Linked DNA regions of Homo sapiens. The protein of the gene in region 6 purifies or fractionates together with the protein of the main gene of each other region. This does not show direct contact. Each region holds a gene or a part of one and is shown on either strand. Other genes may lie near its edges. The genes, in order: GLUD1, SPTA1, ACAD8, CALU, SLC25A19, PTPN22 and SFXN4.

Region 1 (3,500 bases), on a different chromosome or scaffold from region 6:
CACCCTTTTACCAACCTTCAGCTTTCTGTATCTCATTTTCCCTCAAGAACAACCTTATCCCTGAGTTTTCTAAATTAAAATTCTTGAGGTTGAAGCAAAGCAACAATCTAGCAATAATCTCTAAGGGAAACAGATGGTTATAAGACTTGGTGGCTGATGTGTACTTTTTCCAAGTAAATATTTAATAATACACACTGTTTTTGTGCTTTTCTTTTCCCAGTTACTACATGTACCTGAGGCCGTTAGATTTGTCTGTGTTAAGGATTTGAAAGGGTAAGCTAAAGGATCTGAAGGGAAGTTTAAGTGAGGCCTTAAAAATATTTCCAGCAAAGGGGCATAGTGTGAGAATATGCGACTGATTTGAGAAGACTGGTTCAAAAGTTCTGGTGGGTTTGGAAATATTATCAAAGATTGTTCTATTAACTTTCCCAGAGTAAATTATCTGTATTTCATTTGCTATGGTTCTGCCTGAGACCAGTCTACCTTTTTAGAAGGAAGTTTATTGTTTTAAAGTCAGTTTGGAGGGAAAGTACAGATTGATAATAGCAATTTATTGATGGTAGGAGTCAATTAACTTTCTCTTCCAGTCTGCCCCCCCCCAGTTGTCTTGATATTAAAACTATTAAAATTCCCTATCACTGATGCTACTATCATAAAATTTTCTAAAATTATCATAATTTACATATAGTTGATGGACCGTAGATGGAGTTCTCTCATACATTGACCCTAAGTCTTTTAATTACAAATATTAGTACCCAAAAAAGTGTACCCTATATTAATCCAGTAACTAGTTTTTAAAAGTCAAAATGCCAGAAGGAAACAGTGGAATCTTGATGACATAATGCAAGGGAAGACCGGAGTCAATGCAGTGTTAAAGACGCCCTCAGCCTCTGGGATGTCATTGTTTAGCGCTTAAGGGAAGACTATAGAAAGCACTGATACTGATTTAAAATGAGATATTTCTCTGCCTTCACTGGGGGAAAAAATGTTTCTGACTTATTTTGCTGTGCTCAATTGACAACCATCAAAACTTAGGTAACTTTTAATAAACTCACAGTTTCTAATATTTTTAAGTGGCTGTGTGTCTGCATCTGCTGCCACAGATAAAATATAACCTTTGTAGGTGAATTTAATTTAGGACTTTTCTGAAAGTTCAGTCAGAGGATAGGTAATTTGTGTGTCTTTTAAAAGCACTTAGCCCCGAGGTTGTTGTTTTTAATACATCTTATTTAAATACGGAAATGTGTTGCCCTTATGCCTTTTTATTTCATGGAAGCCAAATGCGTCTTTTCTCCCAAAGTATACTAGAAAATGAAGACGCTTGGTAATGGTAGTGATCTGTACATCAGATTTCAGTCTTTCTGTCACTTGCGTGTATGAATCCATTTAGCAAGTTTGCTTTTGGCAGTAAAGCCCCACGTGCAGGAAGACAAACAGCTGCTCACTCATTATCCAAAGTATACTTTGTAAGAATTAGGGCATCAAAAATTGGATCCTAAGCACCAATATATATTAAAGTTCAGTACAACTTGTAGTGTTTAAGTACAAGAAATAAAAATTGAGCCTGAACTTTTGGCATATAGTGGGAAGAAATTAGGTTTACCGCTGTTAATAATTCAGAGTGCTTAGGAAAATCGGTTTTTATTTACTTATGTTAAAAATACTAAGGGTTCTGTAACCATTAAAAACTAAAATACTAACCTGTAGATGTTGAAAAAATCCTAGACACTAGTCTCTGCCACGTGACTGTTCTTCTTTTCTATTTATTTTACCCAATAATTAGGCTTTTACAATGTAAGTAATAAAGAGAAAAATCTCTAGTATCACTTTAGAGCACATTGATTCATAAATAGCCCATAAATTTTGTACTCAGCAACCCATAAAATACACATGCATGATTCACATAATCAAATAGTAACGAAAGTTACAAAATGAAAAGTGAAGCAGCTCTACCCCAAGTCCTTCCCCCAATATAACCATGAACAGTCTTAAATCTAATGCCGCTGTCTAAAACTGACTAGTTATTCAAATGAATCAATATTTTCCCCTTTCCAGAGGCAGAAATTAATACAGATTCAAGTGTTCACTATCAAGTCGGAATTGTTAATATGTGAAATACTACTGTTAAAGGCAGGAAAGGCTTTATTAAGGACAAGAAGACAAACTAGGAGAAGGAGCTACTCAAGACCTTCCGATTATCTTTACAAAAAGGCAACTACACCTAGAAGATTCTGCAGCCACACACATTCTGCCTTCACTTGAGGTCAACTGCCTTCACCAAGGTCAGATATTAGCAAAGGCTAACATTTATTCAGCTCTGTGTGTGCCAGGCATTTTATTAAGAACTTTTCATGCATCATCAGTTCTATGCCTTATAGCAACAATGCATGTAAGAACTTTTCATGTATCATTGCTTTTATGCCTCATGCAATACACTGTTGTCCCTGATTTCCAAATGTGGCTACTAAGGTTGAGGAGTGAAGTGTCCTTTGGCAGGGTGACACAGCTAGTACGTAGTGGAGTTGAGGTTCAGATTCTGGGCATCTGATTCCAGCACCCACCTTAATCATTGTTGTCTGGGATTTATTTATGCAAAAAGTTACAAATTGTATCTTAGGCTTTTAATTGTAAGCGCTGATTGAGAACCACTTCATGCCATTGACACAATGCTTCCTAATACTTTGGATCATAGATACCTTTGAAATTTCTGTTAAAAGCTATTAGAAGACCTACCTTCTTCCTAGAAAAATACATATTCAAACAGCTTTGCATATAAAACTCAGCATAGATGATATCTCTAGAGGTCCATTTATTCTAATTGCTAAGGAAATGAAATAACCTTTTTCCCCTACACCCAACTCCGAAGACCTGAAATAACATTTTAAACAGTTTTCCATCAAAAGAGGTTTGAAGACTTTGGTGTTTAAGAGATTAATGTGTTAGCCAGAACAACTCATTTCTCTACCAGTGTGTAGTCCATTTATCTTTAAAGATTTTCTATTGAATAATTTTGAAATTACTTTCTTAGTTTTCTTCATTAAAAACTAAGAAAATGCTTTGTTTATTATGAATTGCTATTTCTCTTGATTATTATTCTTGGAGAAAGTCTATCAGACGTAATTCTTCTGATTTGCTTCTAGGCTAGAGGAAAATGTGAAAGATGACAAATGAAAATTTCAAAGGTTGTCAGTAGTATGACTTCTTTTATCGTTTGTCATTATCACAAATATATCAACATAGGACTTTTAAAAGATATTTTGTACATATTGGGCCTTAGTAGGATTTTGCATGAATTTTTTTTTTCTTTTATGCCAAGAGAGAAAGAGCAAAGAAATAACCAAGGGTGATGTACTCGTATTGAAGGTTTACCAAATAAGGACTGCTTTTATTATGAACTATAGTCTATATTCTAAGTAAATCAATTTTTCTATTATGTGTTTTTTGTTCCTGCAGGCAAGATCTCTGAACTTTATGCAGAGGGTTCTTTTAAAAAAACAAAG
Region 2 (3,500 bases), about 45 Mb from region 6:
GATCCTAGACCAGTGCCTGGAGTTGCAGGTACAGCAAATTTCCCAATTGTTAAGCAGGTTCAGTAGTCTGTTTCTCCTATGCAATTTCATATGGTCATTACAGGCTCCGTTCACTAGACTTTCCACGTTATAAACACAAAGGGAGCTCATCTCTTAATTACCTAGCATTGTACTATGCTTTCTATACCGATCATTGTCATATTCTCTGCTCTTTCTTGTTAGAAGAGCCAAACAAGATGGTGATCAGTCCTGAGCATGAGGTGGGTTGACTATCATTTGTTGATTGACTGAGGAATTGATTGGCTGATTTTTGTTGAGACTCTACTCTGTGGAGGCTCGGAGTGCCACAAAGATTAGTAAGATAGTTTCCCATTTCTTAAATAGTGAAATTAGACATATAGATAAATTTTACTAGTACAGTGAGATGATTATTAATAAACCAAAATGTACGAGTGCTTTGAGGCTAAAAAACAAGAAGTGATTAAAGCTTTTGGGGGAAGTAAGTGGTTGTGTCACAGGCTACCCTGAAGGATAACGTTTCACAAAGTCTTAAGGAAATGACCAGCCAGTATTAACAAGGTTTAAGAAATAGGAAATAGCACCCCAGGAATTGGAGGTAGCATATACAGAAACATAAAGTGTATGTTTGGAAAAGAGGAAAAGTTCCAGTACAGCTAAGATTTGTCACATGAGTGTTTCTTGGAAGATGGTAAGTACTCCTTGCAAAACCCTTTGTGTCATGATCCTGAAAGAGGTGTAACATCATTTCCTCCACACCACATGGACTATACCATACCCCTCTCATTTGATTCCTCATAGATGTTCCAGGGGAACTGTGATCAAGTTGAGAGCTGGATGGTGGCACGTGAGAATTCCCTGAGGTCAGATGACAAAAGTTCCTTAGACAGTCTGGAGGCTTTGATGAAGAAACGGGACGATTTGGACAAAGCAATCACTGCCCAGGTAATAATGACTAGTAAAGGAATTAAAATAATAATCCGTAGTAATAATAACAGAAATCCTACACATTTGTCTGGTTTTATAATTTATAAACATTTTGATTTACTTTTTTTTTTTTTGAGATGGAGTCTCATTCTGTCACCCAGGCTGGAGTGCAGTGGTGTGATCTCGGCTGACTGCAACCTCTGCCTCCCGGGTTCAAGTGATTCTCCTACCTCAGCCTCCTGAGTAGCTGGGATTACAGACACCCACCACCATGCCCAGCTAATTTTTGTACTTTTAGCAGAAACAGGATTTCACCATGTTAGCCAGGCTGGTCTCGAACTCCTGACCTCAAGTGATCTACCTACCTCGGCCTCCCAAAGTGCTGAGATTATAGGAGTGAGCCACCGTGCCCAGCCCTGATTCTTGTTTGCTTCTTACAGAAAAACTGAGGCAGGCAGGGCAGCTTGACACTTGACATTGTTTCACCCAAGTCACAGGCAGCAAGCAGACTCTCTTACTTTAAATCCAGCATTCTAAACTCTGACTTTTAGGATTGATTAAATAGTCATTTCATCATCTCACTCAATAAAGGATTCACCCTCTACAATGGTCATGAGAAGTGTCTGTTCTTTAGGGAACTCTGTACCACACAAGTAGCCCATTATTAGATGTTTCTCCTCCTATTAAGTTGAAACCCACCTCCCTGTAAGGCATATATTATTTGACCCTGAGTATATCTTCTGAATCCACAAAGGATACCTTCATTCTTTTCTAGGAGGGAGTCTGGGATTGCACCAAGAGCCTAATCTCCAAGCATCTGGGCTCTTTCCTTTTCCTTTATTTAGGAAGGGAAGATCACTGACCTAGAACATTTTGCTGAGAGCCTCATTGCTGATGAACACTATGCCAAAGAAGAGATTGCTACGCGGCTCCAACGTGTACTAGACAGGTCAGGCCTGAGTGATTGTTTTATGTGCCAAAGGAAGATATAGCAAACTGACCTTTTTGCTAGCATTGAGATGGGGGAATACTCTGGCTTCCTGTCATTTCTAGGTGACTAAAACTATCTTGACACCTATGCAGACTTTCTGACTTAGATTTATAGAATGAAAGACATGAAAGATGAAAGATACCTTAGAAATTAACTGGCTTTAGCACTGCATTTTATAATGAAAATAATAAGACTATGTGAGAAGAAAAGAGGCATGTTGGCAAATGGGAAGATTTATGGATATGGCATCAGAGCATGGGAAGGGTGGAGGAGGGCATAGAGTGATTTGGCTCCGTCCTCTAGGTGGAAGGCTCTCAAAGCACAACTGATTGATGAGCGGACAAAGCTTGGAGACTATGCCAACCTAAAACAATTCTACCGAGACCTTGAGGAGCTGGAAGAATGGATCAGTGAGATGCTGCCCACAGCCTGTGATGAATCCTACAAAGACGCCACTAACATTCAGGCAAGTTCAAAATAGGAATCTTGGAAAATTTCACCATTCCGAGCTTGTTGGTTGGATAGTCATCACCCTTGATACTTTAACACTTTCTGACTGTTGAGGCTACCATGCCTGCTCTCAGAGACTTCAGAGTCTGATGTGGAGCAGGTTCTTCAGAAGTCACCGTCACCTCAGTTATGATAGAAATATTAGCCCTTCCTTTTAAATACAATTTACCTTATCTTGTCACCATAAATAAAAAGATAATATAATTTCTGTTTCATTTTCCCTTCAGAGGAAATACCTGAAACACCAGACCTTTGCACATGAAGTCGATGGCCGATCTGAGCAGGTGCATGGCGTCATCAACCTGGGGAACTCCCTGATTGAGTGTAGCGCTTGTGATGGCAATGAAGAGGCCATGAAGGTAAAGCTCAGGATGAGTTTTGGGCTACAAAGTCACATGAAGAGGAATCATTTACTCTTTCTTTTTTTTTAATTTATTGTATTTTTTTTAATTTTATTATTATTATACTTTAAGTTTTAGGGTACATGTGCACAATGTGCAGGTTTGTTACATATGTATACATGTGCCATGTTGGTGTGCTGCACCCATTAACTTGTCATTTAGCATTAGGTATATCTCCTAATGCTATCCCTCCCTCCTCCCCCCACCCCACAACAGTCCCTGGTGTGTGATGTTCCCATTCCTGTGTCCATGTGTTCTCATTGTTCAGTTCCCACCTATGAGTGAAAACATGCGGTGTTTGGTTTTTTGTCCTTGTGATACTTTGCTGAGAATGATGGTTTCCAGTTTCATCCATGTCCCTACAAAGGACATGAACTCATCATTTTTATGGCTGTATAGAATTCCATGGTGTATATGTGCCACATTTTCTTAATCCAGTCTACCATTGTGGGACATTTGGGTTGGTTCCAAATCTTTGCTATTGTGAATAGTGCCGCAATAAACATATGTGTGCATGTGTCTTTATAGCAGCATGATTTATAATCCTTTGGGTATATACCCAGAAATGGGAAGGCTGGGTCAAATGGTGTTTCTAGTTCTGGATCCCTGAGGAATTGCCACACTGTCTTCCCCAATGGTTGAACCAGTTTACA
Region 3 (2,788 bases), on a different chromosome or scaffold from region 6:
TGTAGTTAATGTCTTGCGTATTCTTTTCAATAGGGATGAGGGGATGGAGTAACATAGTAAGTTATAACAGAGCTCCCCTGGCTGGGCACAGTGGCTCACACTTGTAATCCCAGCACTTTGGGAGGCCGAGGTGGGCAGATCACTTGAGGCTAGGAGTTTGAGACCAGCCTGGCCAACATGGTGAAACCCTGTCTCTACTAAAAATACAAAAAGTAGCCGGACGTGGTGGCTTGCGCCTGTAGTCCCGGCTACTTGTGAGGCTGAGGCAGGAGAATCGCTTGAACCCCAGAGGAAGAAGTTGCAGTGAGCTGAGATTGTGCCACTGCACTCCTGCCTGGGCGACAGAGCGAGACTCTGTCTCAAAAACAACAAAAAACAGCAAACAAACAAACAAAACAAGGTCTCCTGAAGTCCCATCTGTGAATCTCACTTTAATTCTACTTTCATACATCATAAACAATGCTTAGTTTGCAAAGTTATTAATAATTTAAGGAGCCTGCTTTTTAAAAGCCAAATTGGACGAGAGTTTTATTATTCCAAAATCCAGTTAAGTGTTTAATCAAATACAATTAAACATTTAAAATAAAAATCAACTATAGTAGAACCAGAGGTGGTGAAGGATAGATTTTATCAATGTGATTAAAAATATTTAAAAGGAGGAACAGCTTCAGAAAAGGAAACAAAAACACAAAAAAAATATTCAAAGTGTTTATCAGGAAAAGAAACACTGAATAGCACTCCTAGACCACAGGCTTCTTAACATGAAACCCAACGAATATTCAAAATTCAAAAGTCTCAGCCCTTGATATTGAGGCAGTCCAGAAGTAGAAATACACCCTAAATCACAGCTTAGGAGTAAGTTTCCAAATATCCATTTTATCATGATTTACATTCAGAGGTGTGCTATCCAGAGAAACCTTCTGCATCTGTAGCTGTGGCACAGAGAACGACACAGACAGGAGGGCATTCCTCCATTTCCCCTTCCCACACCTTTGCTCTAGAATCAGGAAGAGCATCAGTGAAAGTCCCCAGGCCCCTAGAGGAGGGATCCAGTGAACTAGTAAAATGCAGACTAATCAAGATAAAGTGGATCCAAGAAAGGACTTTCATGGTTTGACGGTGAATCTTCACTGGTCACCCTTCTGGCATTAGGAAAACAAGGTAGTATGTGTTCTTCTGATGTTTCTCATCAGTCCAGCTCTTCCGGTTCCACTGGGGATTCTGCCCCAGTCCAAGACCCGATGCTGGTGCCAACACACAGGGTGCAGGTCCTGCCCTAGAGGAGCTCAGCCCTTGGGTCTAATCCATGATTCCTTTGGAATAGAGCGGCCCACATGGCACCACTCAACACTGACTGCAGTCGCACTGAACACCAGGCCAGAACAAGTGTGGGTTCTACTCCTGAAGCAGGCTTCTAGAGATCAGTATCCTCATCACTTCATTGCTACCTGTAAGAGGGAGGAAGGAGGAAGAATTTCACAGCAGCAAAGTCTGAGAGTTTAGTAAAGCTCTGACCAGGCTGCTCCAGGCCTAGTTCAGAGTAGCTGCAGATTTAAACTACAATCATTGCTTTTAGCCTGGGAGAGATGAGATTATCAGAGACTTCTCTACAAAGTACTGAAAAATGTCAGGAAATAATACTTTTTTAAAAACTTCTTCTGATGGTAAAAATGCTTATATAAAGTTTAAAAAGGCAGAATAAAAACAGTATATACAGGATAATTCTAATTAAAATTAAAAATGTACCAACAAAGGCAGAGTAAAATGCCTAAAAGGAGATGTACCAAAATAACATTCTGGATGTAGAAACATGAGTGATTTTTTTTCTTTTACTTTTCTTTTGAGACAGTCTTGCTGTCGCCCAGGCTGGAGTGCAGTGGTGTGATCTTGGCTCACTGCAACCTCCGCCCCCCAGGTTCAAGCAATTCTCTTGCCTCAGCCTCCTGAGTAGCTGGGACCACAAGCATGTGCCACCAGGCCCCACCAGGCCCGGCTAATTTTTTGTATTGTTTTTAGATGGAGTCTCACTGTCACCCAGGCTGGAGTGCGATGGTGCAATCTCAGCTCACTGCAACCTCCACCTCCTGGGTTCAAGCGATCTTCCTGCCTCAGCCTCTCGAGTAGCTGGGATTCCAGGCATGCACCACCACGCCCAGCTAACTTTTTATAATTTTAGACAGTCGGGGCTTCACCGGGTTGGCCAAGCTGGTCTCGAACTCCTGGCCTCACGCGATCCACCCGCCTCAGCCTCCCAAAGTGCGGCGATTATAGACATAAGCTACCGCACCCAGCCTACTTTTCCTAATTTTATAAGGTTTCAACAATAAATACACATTTCTTTGGTAATCAGAAAACTGACTTACAAAAGAATGAAAACATTTTCCCTGAAAGGAGGGTATCAATTATTTGCTTCATTTTTAGCAGTGGCCTTTAATGCAAAAAGAAATATAAACCCCCTCGAGGAATCAGTAGTCACATCGTCTCAAATAAAGCATAAACTGTAGATTTATCCAACAGTAAAGTCCATGATGAAACAAAGTGATACAGTGATGAGTGCCCCAATTCTTCTGTAAGTGGGTGATGGTGTGGCCTACAATAAATGTTTTCCTGCTTATTATTGCAGGGTGGAGAGAGAGTTAGAATGAAGGCGAAGTTTCCTACGCACATAAAGCTCAGTGAGAAAGCAATTCCAAGAGTAATGGAAGGAAAACGACTCTCGGGAATTCAGTTTGAACACTGGCGACTGAGCCCATAAACATCTTTCTGGAATGAGGTTTGCAGAAGAAAG
Region 4 (3,500 bases), on a different chromosome or scaffold from region 6:
TCTCTACTAAAAATATAAAAATTAGCCAGGTGTGGTGGCATGTGCCTGTGTAATCCCAGCTACTCAGGAGGCTGAGGCAGGAGAATCGCTTGAACCCAGGAGGCGGAGGTTGCAGTGAGCCGAGATCGCGCCACTGCACTCCAGCCTGGGCGACAGAGCAAGACTCTGTCTCAAAAAAATAAAGTAAAATAAATAAAAATAGAAATTCAAATAGTTTATCATGGTCACCTAGCTTTAAAATGCGCTTACGTTGTAGTGTATTGTGTATTCTAGCTTCCTTTAAAACCATATCTTTTAAGCATGTGTCTATTTCCTAATTCAGAACTTTCCAATCTGTATCCTGTGAGTAAGTCTTCTTGGCTTTCAGGACAGCTAGGGCAGGAACCTGATCCAGTGGACCGTACAAACTACATTTTCTGAATGTGCTGTAGCATGGGAAAAAATTGGCAAGTCCTGCTGTGAGGAATTTCTCTTGTGAGTTTAAGACAGAGGAGTACTTCTACCCTTAACCCTCAAGGTCAGGAAAATGGCAGCACTGACTAAATAATTACCTTTGCTTAGAACTTGCAGGAACTATTTAGATTTCTCTTTAGGTGTTTTCCCATACCTTACATGCAATGCAGGTACACTTAACTTAGATGTCGTATAACTCAAGCATTTTCAGACTTGTTCACTTAAATAACTCCTGAAAGAATTTGACCAACAGCATTCCCTTATGTGTTTTAAAGTTGGCATCTGAAATATTTAATTAAGAAATTTAAACAGTTGTAAAGAATAGTCTCTGTTGGGCCGGATGCCGTAGCTCATTCCTGTAATCCCAGAACTTTGGGAGGCTGAGGCAGGTGAATCACTTGAGCCCAGGAGTTTGAGAACAACCTGGACAACATGGCGCAACCCTGTCTCTACAAAAAATACAAAAAAAAAGAAAAAATTAGCCAGGCATGGTGGCGTGTGCCTGTAGTCCCAGCAACTCAGGAGGATCACTTGAGCCTGAGGGTTTGAGGTTGCAGTGCACCGTTATTGTACCACTGCACTCCAGCCTGGGCAACAGAGCAAGACCCTGTCTCAGAAGAAAAAAGAATAATCTCTGTTGGTGATAAGCATTGACATTTTGAAAGTAATTCGGAAAGAAATCTATAAAATTTAAATACAAGATACCATAGCAACTTCTTACCTGCCGTCTTTCATATGAATAATTTGGACACGACAACTTTAAAAAGATAATCAAGAAATTTAAATTCAGTCTGGGTATTAGATGATACCAAGGAATTGATTTTGTAAAATATGAAAGTGGCATTGTGGGTATATAAGAAAATATCCGTAATTTTTTACATTTCATAATAGTTAAAAAGGAAATGTTTCTTTGGTACTTTTTTTTTTTTAGTTATGGCGTTTGGTTAGCAACAATGTGACCATCACTTAATTGCCCTTTTTTTTGTTTAAATTTATAGGGATTTGGGGATATTTATACTACTTATCAGTCACCACATGATATTGTCTTAAAAAAATAAATGAATAAACTGTTAACCAACTTGGACATTTTACACGCATCCTGTTTCTTCTTCTTCTTCTTTTTTAAAAAGACAAGAGTCTCATTCTGTTGCCCATGTTGGTGTGCAGTGGCACAATCACAGCAGCCTCGATCTCCAAGGTGGGGAGATCAAGTGATCCTCTCACCTCAGCTGGGACCACAGAAGAGCACCACCACACCCAGCTGATTTTTTTTATTATTATTCTTATAGACATGGGTCTCCCTACATTGCCCAGGCTGGTCTGGAAATCCTGGGCTCAAGAGCTCTACCTGCCTTGGCCTCCCAAAGTGCTGGGATTACAGACATCAGCCACCCGACCTCCTGTTTCTTTTTTTTCTTTTTCTTTTTGAGACAGGGTCTCACTCTGTCACCTAGGCTGGAGTGCAGTGGCATGATCATGGTTCATTGCAGCCTCGATCTGCTAGGCTCAAGCCATCCTCCTGCCTCAGCCTCCCGAGTAGCTGGGACTGTAGGTGCATGCTGCCATGCCTGGCTAATTTTTGTATTTCTTGTAGGGATTTTGCCATGTTGTCCAGGCTGATCTCAAACTCACAAGTCAGCCTTCTATTTGTTAGATTCATTTGCAGTTTACTTCCTCAACAGAATTATATTCTGACATATTTTATCTTGAAGCCTTAGTCACTTTGACATTCTTATTTGCAAGAACATTGTGTATGTAAATTGAAATATGGAAAATGGTGTTCTGTGATATGGCTCTTAAGTGTTTTTAGAGTCTTCTGTGTTAAGTTACTATTACAATTATTAATACACAATTGAACAAAATAACATTTATTACAGACGTTTTATGTTTATATATTTTTAAATGCATTTCTTTGACACATTTTTATTCAAATAGTTTCATATCCATGGATGACAATTACTTATCCCTAGAGTGAAATGGGATTCAGCACCAATTCCTAATTTTTATTTTTTAGAGGAAGTACTAACAGACCTTGTTTACATTAGTAAATAAGTTGATGGAAGATTTGTCATAGCAATATTGCTTAGTTCTTGGAACTCCTTTTGAGTTACATGCCAGAAATCATGTAATCTATCATCAAAAATTATGGGTTTTGTTTGTTTCAAGGTGGAGTCTCTCTCTCTCACCCAGGCTGTAGTACACAGGCACGGTCTCGGCTCATTGCAACCTCTGCCTCTGGGGTTCAAGCGATTCTCCTGCCTCAGCCTCCCCAGTAGCTGGAGATTACAGGTGTGGGCCAGCACGCCCGGCTAATTTTATTTTTTATTTTTAGTAGAGACGGGGTTTCACCATGTTGGCCATGCTGGTCTCAAACTCCTGACCTCAAGTGATCCACCCGCCTCAGCCTCCCAAAGTGCTGGGATTACAGGCATGAGCCACTGCACCCAGCCCAAAAATTATGTTTAATGATCCCTTAGCTAAAACTCAATTAGGCCATTTTTCAAGGTTTTTTTTTTTAAAGCAAAGAATTTAAAACCTTTTGACATGCAAACGAATTTATTCATTTTTTTTCAGGCATTTGCATTCTCAAGACTGACACTAGTATTTCTTTTTCTTTTTTTTTTTTTTTTTTTTTGAGACGGAGTCTTGCTCTGTCGCCCAGGCTAGAGTGCAGTGATATGATCTCGGCTCACTGCAACCTCTGCCTCCTGGGTTCAAGTGATTCTTTTGCCTCAGCCTCTCGAGTAGCTGGGATTACAGGCACGCACCACCATGCTCAGCTAATTTTTGTATTTTTAGTAGAGATGGGGTTTTGCCATTTTGGCCAGGCTGGTCTCAAATTCCTGACCTCAGGTGATCTGGTCTCAAACTCCGACCTCAGGTGATCTGCCTGCCTAGGCCTCCCAAAGTGCTGGAATTACAGGTGTGAGCCACCACGCCCATCCAGACACTAGTATTTCTAATTGTTTCTTTTTCATTATCTTGGAGCTTTTTACACTCTAGTTTCAAAATGGTTGAAAATATGCCTTTCTTTTATAAAGTGGGAC
Region 5 (4,083 bases), on a different chromosome or scaffold from region 6:
CTGACCAACATGGCAAAACCCCATCTCTACTAAAGATACAAAAAATTAGCTGGGCATAGTGGTGCACGCGTGTAATCCCAGCTACTCGGGAGGCTGAGGCAGGAGAATCGTGTGAACCCCAGAGGCAAAGGTTGCAGTGAGCTGAAATAGCACCATTGCACTCCAGCCTGGGCGACAAGAGCAAAACTGTCTCAAAAAAAAAAAAAAAAAAAAAAAAAAAAAAAAAAAAAAAAAAAGAAGAACATTTCTTTCTTTCAGAAAAGTGTAAACACTAATTCATATTTGATATTAAAAGTTTTTTTGGGGGGTCGGAGTGACAGTTTTGTGTGTGTGTGAAGCATAATGTATACGTATTAAAAAGGGAATGCTTGTCCTTTAAAGACACATACTGAAATATTTACTGGTGAAAACACGTGATGGTATTTACTTCAGAATAACGCTGGGCAGCGCGTGCGAGGTAGGTGCAGAAATAGAGGAAACAAGATTGCCCCATGAGTCGCGTAACTGCTGAGGTCGGAGAGCGACTCTACGCGGCTTCATCGGGTTATTCCACTTCTGTGTATCTTGAAATTTTCTACAATAAAAATGTCTTAAAATTGTGCGTCAAAATGATAACACGAATATAAAAATGCAATTAAAAAGTCAGGAGGCAATACTGTCGCGCAAAACCGTGACGCTAGTTGTGTGCGGGCGGTAGGATGAGTCATTTCCTCCTTCCTTTCTATATTTTCTGTCTATATACTTTTAATATTACTTTTATAATGAGAAATACTAAAACTCGGGGTGAGAGGGGGGGACACTCGTGTTTTTGCCTTCCCCGTCCCCGAGGGGACTGTTCTCATCTATTCTCTTCCCGACGTCCTCCAGCTTTTTGCTAGGCTTCCTGCCATCTTTACCAAGTTGAGATTATCCGGGTTCTGGCATTAACAGAGTTTGAGGAAAGCGGGTCAAGTCTACCGCGCCCTAACCTTGGACCCCGCCTGCAGGCTGACTTTCGAGTCACACGCCAGAGCACGGCGACCCCTAAGGTCGCAGCCCGGCTTCGCAAGGCACCTCCTTCTAACGCGTCGGTCGAACTCGCGCGCCCGCGAGCAGCCGGACTACATCTCCCAGGAAGCTGTGCGCCGTCCAGCTGTCCTGCCCTTGGTCGCGAAGGACTACATTACCCGGTGATATCTTGCGGGAGGCGGTTGCCAGACCTCAAGCGCACAACCATTGGTCCAGCGTCTGGCGGGGAGCTGCACGGTGATTGGCCCAGGAGCCCGCCAGTTTCGTCCGAGCTCAGTAGAGTTTTGCTGTTAAGACTGCGCGAGGAGCTAGAGAGAGCGGAGAGCGCTGAGCCGGGCCGCACCCGCCGAGCCGTGTGAGTAACCTCTACCTCCGTCCTTCTCGCCGCCCTCTCGGGGACCAGCACCCTCGCTCCTCAGGGTGGTCGGGAGGGAGCACACGCACCCGGGCGCTCACGAGAGGGCGGGGACTGTGTACACACGTGTCACACCAGACCAGAGAAGCATCTCCAGGGACACCGGCGGCCGAGCCCCGCGCACGCCCTTGAGCACCTGAGCTCCAGGGCGTCCCCTCGGACTCAAGGAGAAAAAACACACCCCGAGGCACACGTGGACACCTAGGTACCCACACGGGGACCTCTGCAGATTTGCTCAGCTGAGCCCTTGGGCACATGGGCACCCGAACACCAGGAAGAGCCTGGTATGCTCCGGTCTCCTGACAGCGATCCAGGACACCTGCCACTCGGGCTTGCTCCTCCTTTCTGCCCAGATGGGCGGGAAACACGCTGCTCAGTGTGACCTGAGCGGTCCCTGGGTAACCCCTGGAGAGGTTTTGCCTCTCAGTCGCTTGCCGCGTGTTTAAACTTCCTCATGGGCGCCTGGGGAGGAGTTCCAGGGTGGGTGAGAGGAGAAAAGGAATTGATGTCTGGGGTGGAGGCTGCCATCCTGTAGGTAGTATCTCCCCTCCTCCCCCACCCCCACCCCCACTACTACAAGTATTCAAGAACTAGGGTAATTCTGAAGGCTAGTTTTAGGGATTTTTTTTTTTTTTTTTTGCCATAACAAATTCAAACAGTATAGAATTATCGACAGGTCTACCTTCCTTTTTCCCTTCTCAGCCCTTCTCCCTGTGATCAGTTACCAACTACCTGTTGATGTGTGTGGTTACAGACTTCTTTCTATGCTTTGTACAACTCTACAGACCGTATGTAGGTATTACTGTTTTTGTTTTTTGTTTTTACAAAAAAGGAAAAAAGTACATCTCCTGGAAGGGATGCTTTTTAGCTGAGCTCTGGTGGATGAGAGGAGCTAGCCTTGAAAAAGTGAGTAGGGGCTGAGAGTGGGGCTGTATTTCAGACGTAGGGAACTGGAGGAGTAGAGGCAAGGCAATTGATAGGAGTGCTCCCCGAGTTTTCCAGGAACTGGGCAGAAGCAGTCAGACCACTCTGGTTAAATGAGGGAAGGGGAAGAGTGGTCCAGAGTGAGGCTGAAGAGGTCAGTAGGTCTGAGTCAGGGGAGCCCAGGAGCGTCATTTTCTTTTTTGTTTTGTTTTGTTTTTTTGTTTTTGAGACGGAGTCTCACTCTGTAGCCCAGGCTGGAGTGCAATGGCGTGATTTCAGCTCACTGCAACCTCTGCCTCCCAGGCTCACGTGATTCTCCCTCCTCAGCCTCCCAAGTAACTGGGATTACAGGCGCCCACCACGACACCCAGATAATTTTTGTATTTTTATTAGAGACAGGGTTTCACCATGTTGGCCAGACTGGTCTTGAACTCCTGACCTCAGGCGATCCACCCGCCTCGGCCTCCCAAAGTGCTGGGATTACAGGCGTGAGCCACGGTGCCTGGCCAGGAGCATCATTTGCTAGCGTAGCATGGCCCCACTGTGCCGGGGTGGTCTGAGGTGTGTGCAGGAGGGGAAAGGGAAAGGTGAAGGGGCTCAGGGCCTCAGGGCTCTTCCTTTGGACAGTGGGGGATTGTTAAAGAATCCCAATCCCTGTTCTCCAGCCCTGCACGTCCTTCAGTCCCTCAGCGTTACACTTGAGTGGGCTCACTCAGTGAGCAGGAGTTTGCTATAAAGTTGCCAGATGTCTTGGAAAACCAGTTGATCTCTGGGACCAACAATTGCCTATCAAGCCTGTTCATTCGATTCTCAAATATTATTAAGCACTTACCATGATGGGCTCTATTCCAGGAACCGGAAATTTACGAGTGAACAAATGAGACCAAGGTCGTGTTTCCACGGGCTTACATTCTAGTCAGGGAGAGAGACAAGAAACAAATGTACTGTATAAATAACCCATGGCGTGCCGGGCGCTGTGGCTCATGCATGTAATCTCAGCAATTCAGGAGGCTGAGGCAGGAGAATCACTTGAGGCCAGGAGTTCGAGACCAGCCAGGGCAACATTGAGACCTTATCTCTACAAAAATAAAAAACTTAGCCAGGCCTGCACCTGTTAAGTGACAGCTAATTGGGAGGCTGAGGCAAGAGAATCACTTGAGCCCAGGAGTTCAAGGCTATGGTGAGTTATGATGGCACCACTGCATTCCAGCCTGGGCAACAGAGTGAGACCCTGTCTCTAAAAAAGTAAACAAATATGCCATAGTAATAAGTACTGTAAAGAGGAATAAAACAAGTGCTATTTTATTTTATTTTTAAATTTTTGTATTTTTTGTAGAGTTGGGGTTTTGCAGTGTTGCCCAGGCTGGTCTTGAACTCCTGAGCTCAAGCAATCCACCCACCTCGGCCTCCGAAAGTGCTGGGATACAGGCATGAACCGCTGCGCCCAGTCCAAAAGTGAGTGCTATTTTAGACAGTCTAGTCAGGGAGGGCTGCTCTGAGGAGGTGATATTTGAGCAGAGACCATAAGAAACTTGCCTGGTGTTTATTCCGTATCTCTTGCATTTAGCTTGATACTGATGGACATTGTGTGGGCCAGAGGCAGGGATGGTTGGCTATGACCCCAAACCAGATGGCAGGAATAACACCAAGTTCCAGGTGGCAGTGGCTGGGTCTGTGTCTGGACTTGTTACTCGGGCGCTGATCAGTCCCTTCGACGTCATCAAGATCCGTTTCCA
Region 6 (3,500 bases):
GGCAGGAAGAGAGGTGGAAGAGAAAAATGAAGCCTGCCGGGCGCGGTGGCTCATGCCTATAATCCCAGCACTTTGGGAGGCCGAGGTGGGGGGATCACTTGAGGTCAGGAGTTCAAGACCAGCCTGGCCAACATGGCGAAACCCTGTCTCTACTAAAAATACAAAAAAAAATTGGCCGGGCGCGGTGGCTCACGACTGTAATCCCACCACTTCGGGAGGCCAAGGCGGGCAGATCACGAGGTCAGGAGTTCCAGACCATCCTGGCCAACATGGTGAAACCCCGTCTCTACCAAAAATACAAAAAATTGGCCAGGCATGGTGGCGGGCGCCTGTAACCCCAGCTACTTTGGAAGCTGAGGCATGAGAATTGCTTGAACCTGGGTGGCAGAGGTTGCAGTGAACCGAGATCATGCCACTGCACTCCAGCCTGGGCGATAGAGCAAGACTTTGTCTCAAAAACAAAAACAAAAACAAACAAACAAAAAAACAGAAAGAAAAAGGAAGACTTCACAGTGGTATGACCTTAAGATAAGATGTTTGAGGGAAAAAAATCAAATCTTTCATACATTACAAATGAATAATTCTGTAGGCATTTCCTGTGTGATGTTTTGCTAAGAGTGTCTGCTTTTGTCATCCAGCTAGATTACTCGAGGGGGAGGAAAGGAGTAGGAAAAATGAAAGCCATTCTGCCTTATTGTTGAAGGTAGCAGTGAAGGCAGCTAAACAAATATAGGACACACATACACACACACACCCATCACCTTTATCTGTAACATTTTGCCAAATTAATTGAAGGATATCTTACGCAAAGGGCTTTGTGTATAGCATTCTCCCTAGAAAGCGTTCCACAAGCAAAATAAAACAAAAATAAATAAAAACAGTATAACAAGGAGTATGCACTGAGCTTAGTTCTGGAGACTCCTAGAAGAAACTGTTCTGGGACTTGAGATCTTTTCAGCAGCCCTGGGATCAACAGCAACCTGAAAATGATCATTCTGAAGTTGCTTAAGAGCAGGGAGATTTGAAAAATTGGTGTAACTTCAGCTGAAATTCAGCCTAGTCTTTCATGTGTCCTTAAATTCCCAAATTAGTCCACTTGTATCCATATCCATCTTGAAGTAAAAATATGCTATAAAGATAGTTCAGTAGCTTCTTGGGGTTCAAAGTTAAACAAACAAACAAACAAAAAGATATCAGTTCAGTATCTCTCCTCTCAAATCCAGTTCTGAAAATCCAGAGGAATTCAAACTACAGTAGGCTCTCTTTATATACGGAGGATGTGTTTGAAGACCTATAGTAGATGCCTGAAACTGCAGATAGTACCAAATCTTACGTACACTATGTTGTTTTTACCTATACATACATATCTATAATTAAGGTCAATTTATAAATTAGGCACAATAAGAGATTAGCAATAATAGCTAGTAATACAATAGAACAATTATGATAATCTACAGTAATAAAAGTTATGTGAGGCCAAGGAAGGTGCATTGCTTGAGCCCAGGAGTTTGAGACCAGCCTGGGCAACATGGTGAAATCCCTTCTCTACTGAAAATATGAGAACTATCCAGGTGTGATGCTTGTGCCTGTGGTCCCAGCTTTCAGGAGGTAAGGCTGAGGTGGGAGGTGAGGCTGAGGTGGAAGAATCACCTGAGCCCAGAAAGTTGAGGCTGCATTGAGCTGTGGTCAAGCCACTGCACTCCAGCCTGGGTGACAGAGTGAAACTTTATCTCAAAAAAAAAAAAAAAAAAAAGTGACTGCTTTTGGAACTGAAATCTTTGAAATTTTGCTAGATATAGAGAAATTTTATTCAGCTTAAGCTCCACTTCCACTTAGAAAAAAAAGCGATCTGAAGTAAAAAGACTAATAGAACTTAATTATTTTCCAGTTGACCATTTAACTAAAAAGCAGTTATAAAGAAAGTAAATTAAGCTTTTAATATCTGCCCATTGGGTGGAGCATATAGCTTGCTTCCAGAAGATATTTGGTTCTTAAAATATTCACAAGTTTCACTTTTAAGTTCACGCTATCTATGGCTCAGCTGCAGTAAGTGTGATCTTTTCACTTCCCCAAATGTCACTGAACTCAGGTCTCCTTATGCTCTGCAGCTCTGTCCTGAACGGAGTCAGAACCAGAAGATAATAAAAGGGTTGAGGTAGAATGTTTTGCCAGTGGAAAAGGAAAGCTCTTTAGAGATAGCTTCTTACCTCATTTCTCTAGGAAGATTAATTTTTCTTGGAATCTTATTACAGAAGCTGAAAAGGCAATCTACCAAGTACAAGGCAGACAAAACCTATCCTACAACTGTGGCTGAGAAGCCCAAGAATATCAAGAAAAACAGATATAAGGATATTTTGCCCTGTAAGTTCCATTTCTCTCTATAAACTCATACTTTCTCCCAAATTCAATCATTACTATCTCTTTGTACCCATTGCTTACTGATCCTGATCTTGGAACATGGCATTGACAACTTAGTTTGTACTATTTATGACTGCAAAAGAATATTCATTCATTCATTCATTCATTCACTCACTTGTTCACTCATGAGCATACACTATTCACAGTGTTAGGCCCTGATTTAAATCTGCTGACTAAGCCCTCTTAATTGTACTATGTCTGTCTTTTGTATTATAGATGATTATAGCCGGGTAGAACTATCCCTGATAACCTCTGATGAGGATTCCAGCTACATCAATGCCAACTTCATTAAGGTACAGTGAAAGAAAATAAAAGCATTCCATATTTCTCTAGATACCCAAAAAAAGGGGAGGGCTGGCTGGACTCAGTGGCTCATGCCTGTAATCCCAGCACTTTGGGAGGCTGAGGCGGAAAGATCACTTGAACGCAAGAATTTCAGACCAGCCTGGGCAACATATGAGACCCCATCTCAACAAAAAGTTAAAAAATTAGCCAGGTGTGGTGGCATGCGCTTGTAGTCCCAGCTACTGGAGAGGCTGAGGAAAGGGGATTGCCTGAAGCCAGGAGGTCAAGGCTGCAGTGAGCTGTGATTATGCCACTGCACTCCAGCCTGGGTAACACAGTGAGACCATCTCAAAAAAAAAAAAAAAAGGAAGCGGAGGACTAGGTGAGAACAGGGTATTATTTGTAGTCACCCCGTGTAATTTCTGTTCCCCTTTAGGGAGTTTATGGACCCAAGGCTTATATTGCCACCCAGGGTCCTTTATCTACAACCCTCCTGGACTTCTGGAGGATGATTTGGGAATATAGTGTCCTTGTAAGTATGGTGTTGCTTTTGTTACTTTATTCTCTACTTTATTAAAAACAGTGCTTTTAAAAAATTGGTCAGTGGAACTTCAGGGTTCAGGCATCTTTTAGTCAGAATCACAATGCCATTCTTGTCCAAGGAAATGAAAGTTCTCAGCCAGGTGTACTCTGGGAGGCCAAGAGGGGTGGATAGCTTGAGCCTAGGGGTTCTAGACCAGCCTGGGCAACATTGCAAAACCCTGTCTCTACAAAAAATACAAAAATTAGCTGGGAGT
Region 7 (3,500 bases), on a different chromosome or scaffold from region 6:
TTTTTCAAACAGCTTTATTGAGGTATAATTTACATACTGTAAAATTTACCCATTTGTAAGAGGATAGTTTGATGAATTTTAGTCAGTTTAAAACAGTTGTGCAGCCAGGCATGGTGGCTCACTCATGCCTGTAATCCCAACACTTTGGGAGGTAGATCGCTTGAGTCCATGAGTGCGAGACCAGCCTGGGCAGCATAGCAAAACCCTATCTCTACAAAAAAATTTTTAAAAAATTAGCTAGGCATGGCGGGGTGCATCTGTAGTCCCAGCTGCTTAGGAGGCTGAGGTGAGAGGATCAACTGAGCCTAGGAGGTTGAGGCTGCAGCGAGCTATTATCACACCACTGTACTCCAGCCTAGGTGACAGAAAGAGACCCTTGTCTCAAAAAATAAAACATAGGCCAGGCGCGGTGGCTCACGCCTGTAATCCCAGCACTCTGAGGGGTCTGAGGCAGGTAGATCACCTGAGGTCAGGAGTTTGAGACCAGCCTGGCCAACATGGTGAAACCCTGTCTCTACTAAAAATACCAAAATTAGCCGGGCATGGTGGCTCATGCCTGTAGTCCCAGCTACTCAGGAGGTTGAGGCAGGAGAATCACTTGAACCCAGGAGGCAGAGGTTGCAGTGAGCTGAGATTGCGCCACTGCACTCCAGCCTGGGTGACAGAGAAAGACTCTGTCTCAAAAAATAATAATAATAAATAAATGAAACAGTTGTGTGACCATCACCACAGTCCAGTTGTAGAACATTTTCATCATCCTAAAAATGTCCCAAATGCCCACCCCCACCCCCACCCCCAGCCCTAGGGAGGCACTGATCTGCTTCTTTTTTTTTGTTTGTTTGTTTTGAGTCAGAGTCTCACTCTGTCGCCCAGGCTGGAGTGCAATGGTGCGATCTTGGCTCACTGCAACCTCTGCCTCCCAGGTTCAAGCGATTCTCCTGCCTCAGCCTCCCAAGTAGCTGGGACTATAGGTATGCGCCACTGCGCCCAACTAATTTTTTGTATTTTTAGTAGAGACGGGGTTTCACCATGTTAGCCAGGATGGTCTCGATCTCCTGACCTCATGACCCACCCGCCTCGGCCTCCCAAAGTGCTGGGATTACAGGCGTGAGCCCCCATGCCTGGCCACTGACTTGCTTTTCTGTCTTCTTAGTTTTTGCCTTTTCCAGAAATTATACATAAGTGAATCACACTGTAGTTTTTTGTGTCTTGCTTCTTTCACGTTTGAGATTCATCCGTCTTGTACCACATGTTGCTCATTTGTTACTTTTCATTGCTGAGTAGTATTCCGTTCCTGGATGTGCCGCATTTTGCTTATCTATTCTGCCGGCGGTGGACGTTTGGGTTGTGTCCAGGCTTGGGTTATTATGAATCAGGCTGCTCCGACATTCACTTGCACATCTTTATGCATATGTGTGTTTGTATTTCTCCACAACTCCATGTGAACTTAAGGTGTTAGTATTGCTCTGACCTATTCATAAAGCTGGAGAGGAGAGTGAGAGCACATTTTTTTAAGTTCGTTTATTTATTTATTCATTTATTTATAGAGACAGAGTCTCCCTCTGTTGCCAAAGCTGGAGGGCAATGGTACGAACATGGCTCACTGCAGCCTCAACTTCCTGGGCTCAAGCGACCCTCCTGCCTCAGCCTTCTGAGTAGTGTGCACCGCCATACATGGCTAATGTTAAAAAAAAAAAGTTTGTAGAGATGGGGTCTCGCTATGTTGCCCAGGCTGGTCTCAAACTCCTGGCATCAAGTGATCCTCCTGCCTTGGCCTCCCAGAGCGCTGGGAGGTGTGAGGCACTGCACCCAGCTTAGAGCAAATATCCAATGAGCAAGTTGTTCCCAGCACCTCCTGCCTGCCAGGCTTGGTGCTAGGCTCTGGAGACCCACACCCTGATCAGTGAGAGCCCCGTCTCCCCAGCAGCCCCAGCCTCCAGCGGAAAGGTAGCCTCAGGCCTGACTGGCTGTCTGGAGTCCATCTCACCAGAAGAAACTTCATTTTTGGCATGAGGGGCATGTTAGGGTCAAAGAAAAGCTTTACTGGTCTACTTTAAAAAAAAAAAGGTCTTTTTTTTCTCTGAAGAATAAAGTGTCTGCAACTGTGCATAAGCATTCTTCTATCACTTCCCTGTCCCTGGAAGGTTATTTTCTTCGGCTAAAATTTCAGAAACTGCGTAACCAGCAATATCTGATGGTAACAGGGCACGGTTGGTCCAATTTCAGGTGACGCGTGGCTGTTGTTTCCCCCGACTGGCCCCATAAGCCACTGCTTTGCACACAGCGCCTCCTAATGACGGCGTCTCACTTGGAGTGTCCTCCCCACACATGGGACTAAGGGAGAGAGGCGGGCCTCGCCCCACTGATGTGGACACACAGCACACTAACAGCCATTTTTCCCTTCCGGAAGTCAAGCAATTTTACTTTATATCCCTGAGACTTTTATTTTATTTTCTTTTATTTTAGAGACTGAGTCTCGCTCTGTTGCCTAGGCTGGAGTGCAATGGTGTGATCTTGGCTCACTGCAACCTCTGCCTCCCAGGTTCAAGTGATTCTCCTGCCTCAGTCTCCCGAGTAGCTGGGATTACAGGCGCCCACCACCACGCCCGGCTAATTTTTGTATTTTTAGTAGAGACAGGGTTTCACTATGTTGGCCAGGCTGGTCTTGAACTCCTGACCTCAGGTGATCTGCCCACCTTGGCCTCCCAAAGTGTTGGGATTATAAGCATGAGCCACCGTGCCCGGCCCTTAAGACCTTATTTTAAAAACAGCCCTCCTCGGCTTCCTCTCTTTTGTGGGGGGGAAAGGCATTCCCTGCAGAGGGAACCATGCAAGCGTGACTGTCACCCACAGCAGGGCAGAGGTGCAAGCAGAGAGCAGGGGCCGGGTGGTAGGAGGAGCCTGGGAAGGTAGGTCAAAGCCAATCATGGGAAGCTGGAAGTGGAAGGAACAGAGTTCAGGGAAGGACGGGCGCAGGTGTGCCTGCTCCTCTTGGGTACACGATGTGCTGTTTGTGGTGTGTGTGTCTTACCCAGGGGTGGGTTCTAAAGTTAACATGTTAGCTACTCAGGAGGCTGGGGTAGGAGGATTGCGTGAGGCCAGGAAGTCGGGACCAGCTTGGGCAACATAGTGAGATCACATCTCTACAAAAAATCGAAAAGTTAGCCGGGCCTGGTAGGGTGTACCTGTGATCCTGGCTACTCGGGAGGCTAAGGTAGGAGGATCACTTGAGCCTGGGAGGTCAACACTGCAGTGAGCCGTGATCACGCTACTGTACTCCAGCCTGGATGACAGAGTGAGACCCTGTCTCTAAAAATAAATAAATAAATGAAAGTAGTAAAAAAGTTAACGTGAGCTGTCTTATAGTCAAAATTTCCCTTACAAGTCCCTTAAAGTGCCCTTGAGGGTACATGGTTTTGTACATACTCACCCATACAGTAAATTGTATGTTTAAATGTTTAATGTATAGAGTAATGTACATTATAGAAAAGATTACAAAA

What was found.
Region 1: the proteins of PTPN22 (region 6) and GLUD1 purify together in Homo sapiens (affinity purification with mass spectrometry, with the first as the bait; one large-scale study listed by BioGRID). This does not show direct contact.
Region 2: the proteins of PTPN22 (region 6) and SPTA1 purify together in Homo sapiens (affinity purification with mass spectrometry, with the first as the bait; one study listed by BioGRID). This does not show direct contact.
Region 3: the proteins of PTPN22 (region 6) and ACAD8 purify together in Homo sapiens (affinity purification with mass spectrometry, with the first as the bait; one large-scale study listed by BioGRID). This does not show direct contact.
Region 4: the proteins of PTPN22 (region 6) and CALU purify together in Homo sapiens (affinity purification with mass spectrometry, with the first as the bait; one large-scale study listed by BioGRID). This does not show direct contact.
Region 5: the proteins of PTPN22 (region 6) and SLC25A19 purify together in Homo sapiens (affinity purification with mass spectrometry, with the first as the bait; one large-scale study listed by BioGRID). This does not show direct contact.
Region 7: the proteins of PTPN22 (region 6) and SFXN4 purify together in Homo sapiens (affinity purification with mass spectrometry, with the first as the bait; one large-scale study listed by BioGRID). This does not show direct contact.

What each region holds. Positions count from the first base shown.
Region 1 is NC_000010.11:87,088,344-87,091,843, reverse strand, and holds part of GLUD1 (glutamate dehydrogenase 1, mitochondrial isoform a precursor), read left to right. Parts: intron 1-220; exon of another isoform or gene 221-2,282; intron 2,283-3,500. UniProt on the Homo sapiens protein: Mitochondrial glutamate dehydrogenase that catalyzes the conversion of L-glutamate into alpha-ketoglutarate. Plays a key role in glutamine anaplerosis by producing alpha-ketoglutarate, an important intermediate in the tricarboxylic acid cycle.
Region 2 is NC_000001.11:158,641,716-158,645,215, reverse strand, and holds part of SPTA1 (spectrin alpha chain, erythrocytic 1), read left to right. Parts: coding exon 1-28; intron 29-819; coding exon 820-963; intron 964-1,720; coding exon of another isoform or gene 1,721-1,790; coding exon 1,791-1,894; intron 1,895-2,239; coding exon 2,240-2,402; intron 2,403-2,673; coding exon 2,674-2,805; intron 2,806-3,500.
Region 3 is NC_000011.10:134,263,568-134,266,355, reverse strand, and holds the end of ACAD8 (isobutyryl-CoA dehydrogenase, mitochondrial), read right to left. Parts: exon of another isoform or gene 2,411-2,788; intron 1,449-2,410; coding exon 1,396-1,448; 3' UTR 501-1,395; downstream 1-500.
Region 4 is NC_000007.14:128,763,359-128,766,858, forward strand, and holds part of CALU (calumenin isoform a precursor), read left to right. Parts: intron 1-3,500. UniProt on the Homo sapiens protein: Involved in regulation of vitamin K-dependent carboxylation of multiple N-terminal glutamate residues. Seems to inhibit gamma-carboxylase GGCX. Binds 7 calcium ions with a low affinity.
Region 5 is NC_000017.11:75,286,634-75,290,716, reverse strand, and holds the start of SLC25A19 (mitochondrial thiamine pyrophosphate carrier), read left to right. Parts: upstream 1-1,283; 5' UTR 1,284-1,363; exon of another isoform or gene 1,364-1,628; intron 1,629-2,125; 5' UTR 2,126-2,215; exon of another isoform or gene 2,216-3,802; intron 3,803-3,914; 5' UTR 3,915-3,952; coding exon 3,953-4,083. UniProt on the Homo sapiens protein: Mitochondrial transporter mediating uptake of thiamine diphosphate into mitochondria. It is not clear if the antiporter activity is affected by the membrane potential or by the proton electrochemical gradient.
Region 6 is NC_000001.11:113,858,213-113,861,712, reverse strand, and holds part of PTPN22 (tyrosine-protein phosphatase non-receptor type 22), read left to right. Parts: intron 1-2,252; coding exon 2,253-2,361; intron 2,362-2,634; coding exon 2,635-2,711; intron 2,712-3,139; coding exon 3,140-3,235; intron 3,236-3,500. UniProt on the Homo sapiens protein: Acts as a negative regulator of T-cell receptor (TCR) signaling by direct dephosphorylation of the Src family kinases LCK and FYN, ITAMs of the TCRz/CD3 complex, as well as ZAP70, VAV, VCP and other key signaling molecules.
Region 7 is NC_000010.11:119,148,715-119,152,214, reverse strand, and holds part of SFXN4 (sideroflexin-4), read left to right. Parts: intron 1-3,500. UniProt on the Homo sapiens protein: Mitochondrial amino-acid transporter. Does not act as a serine transporter: not able to mediate transport of serine into mitochondria.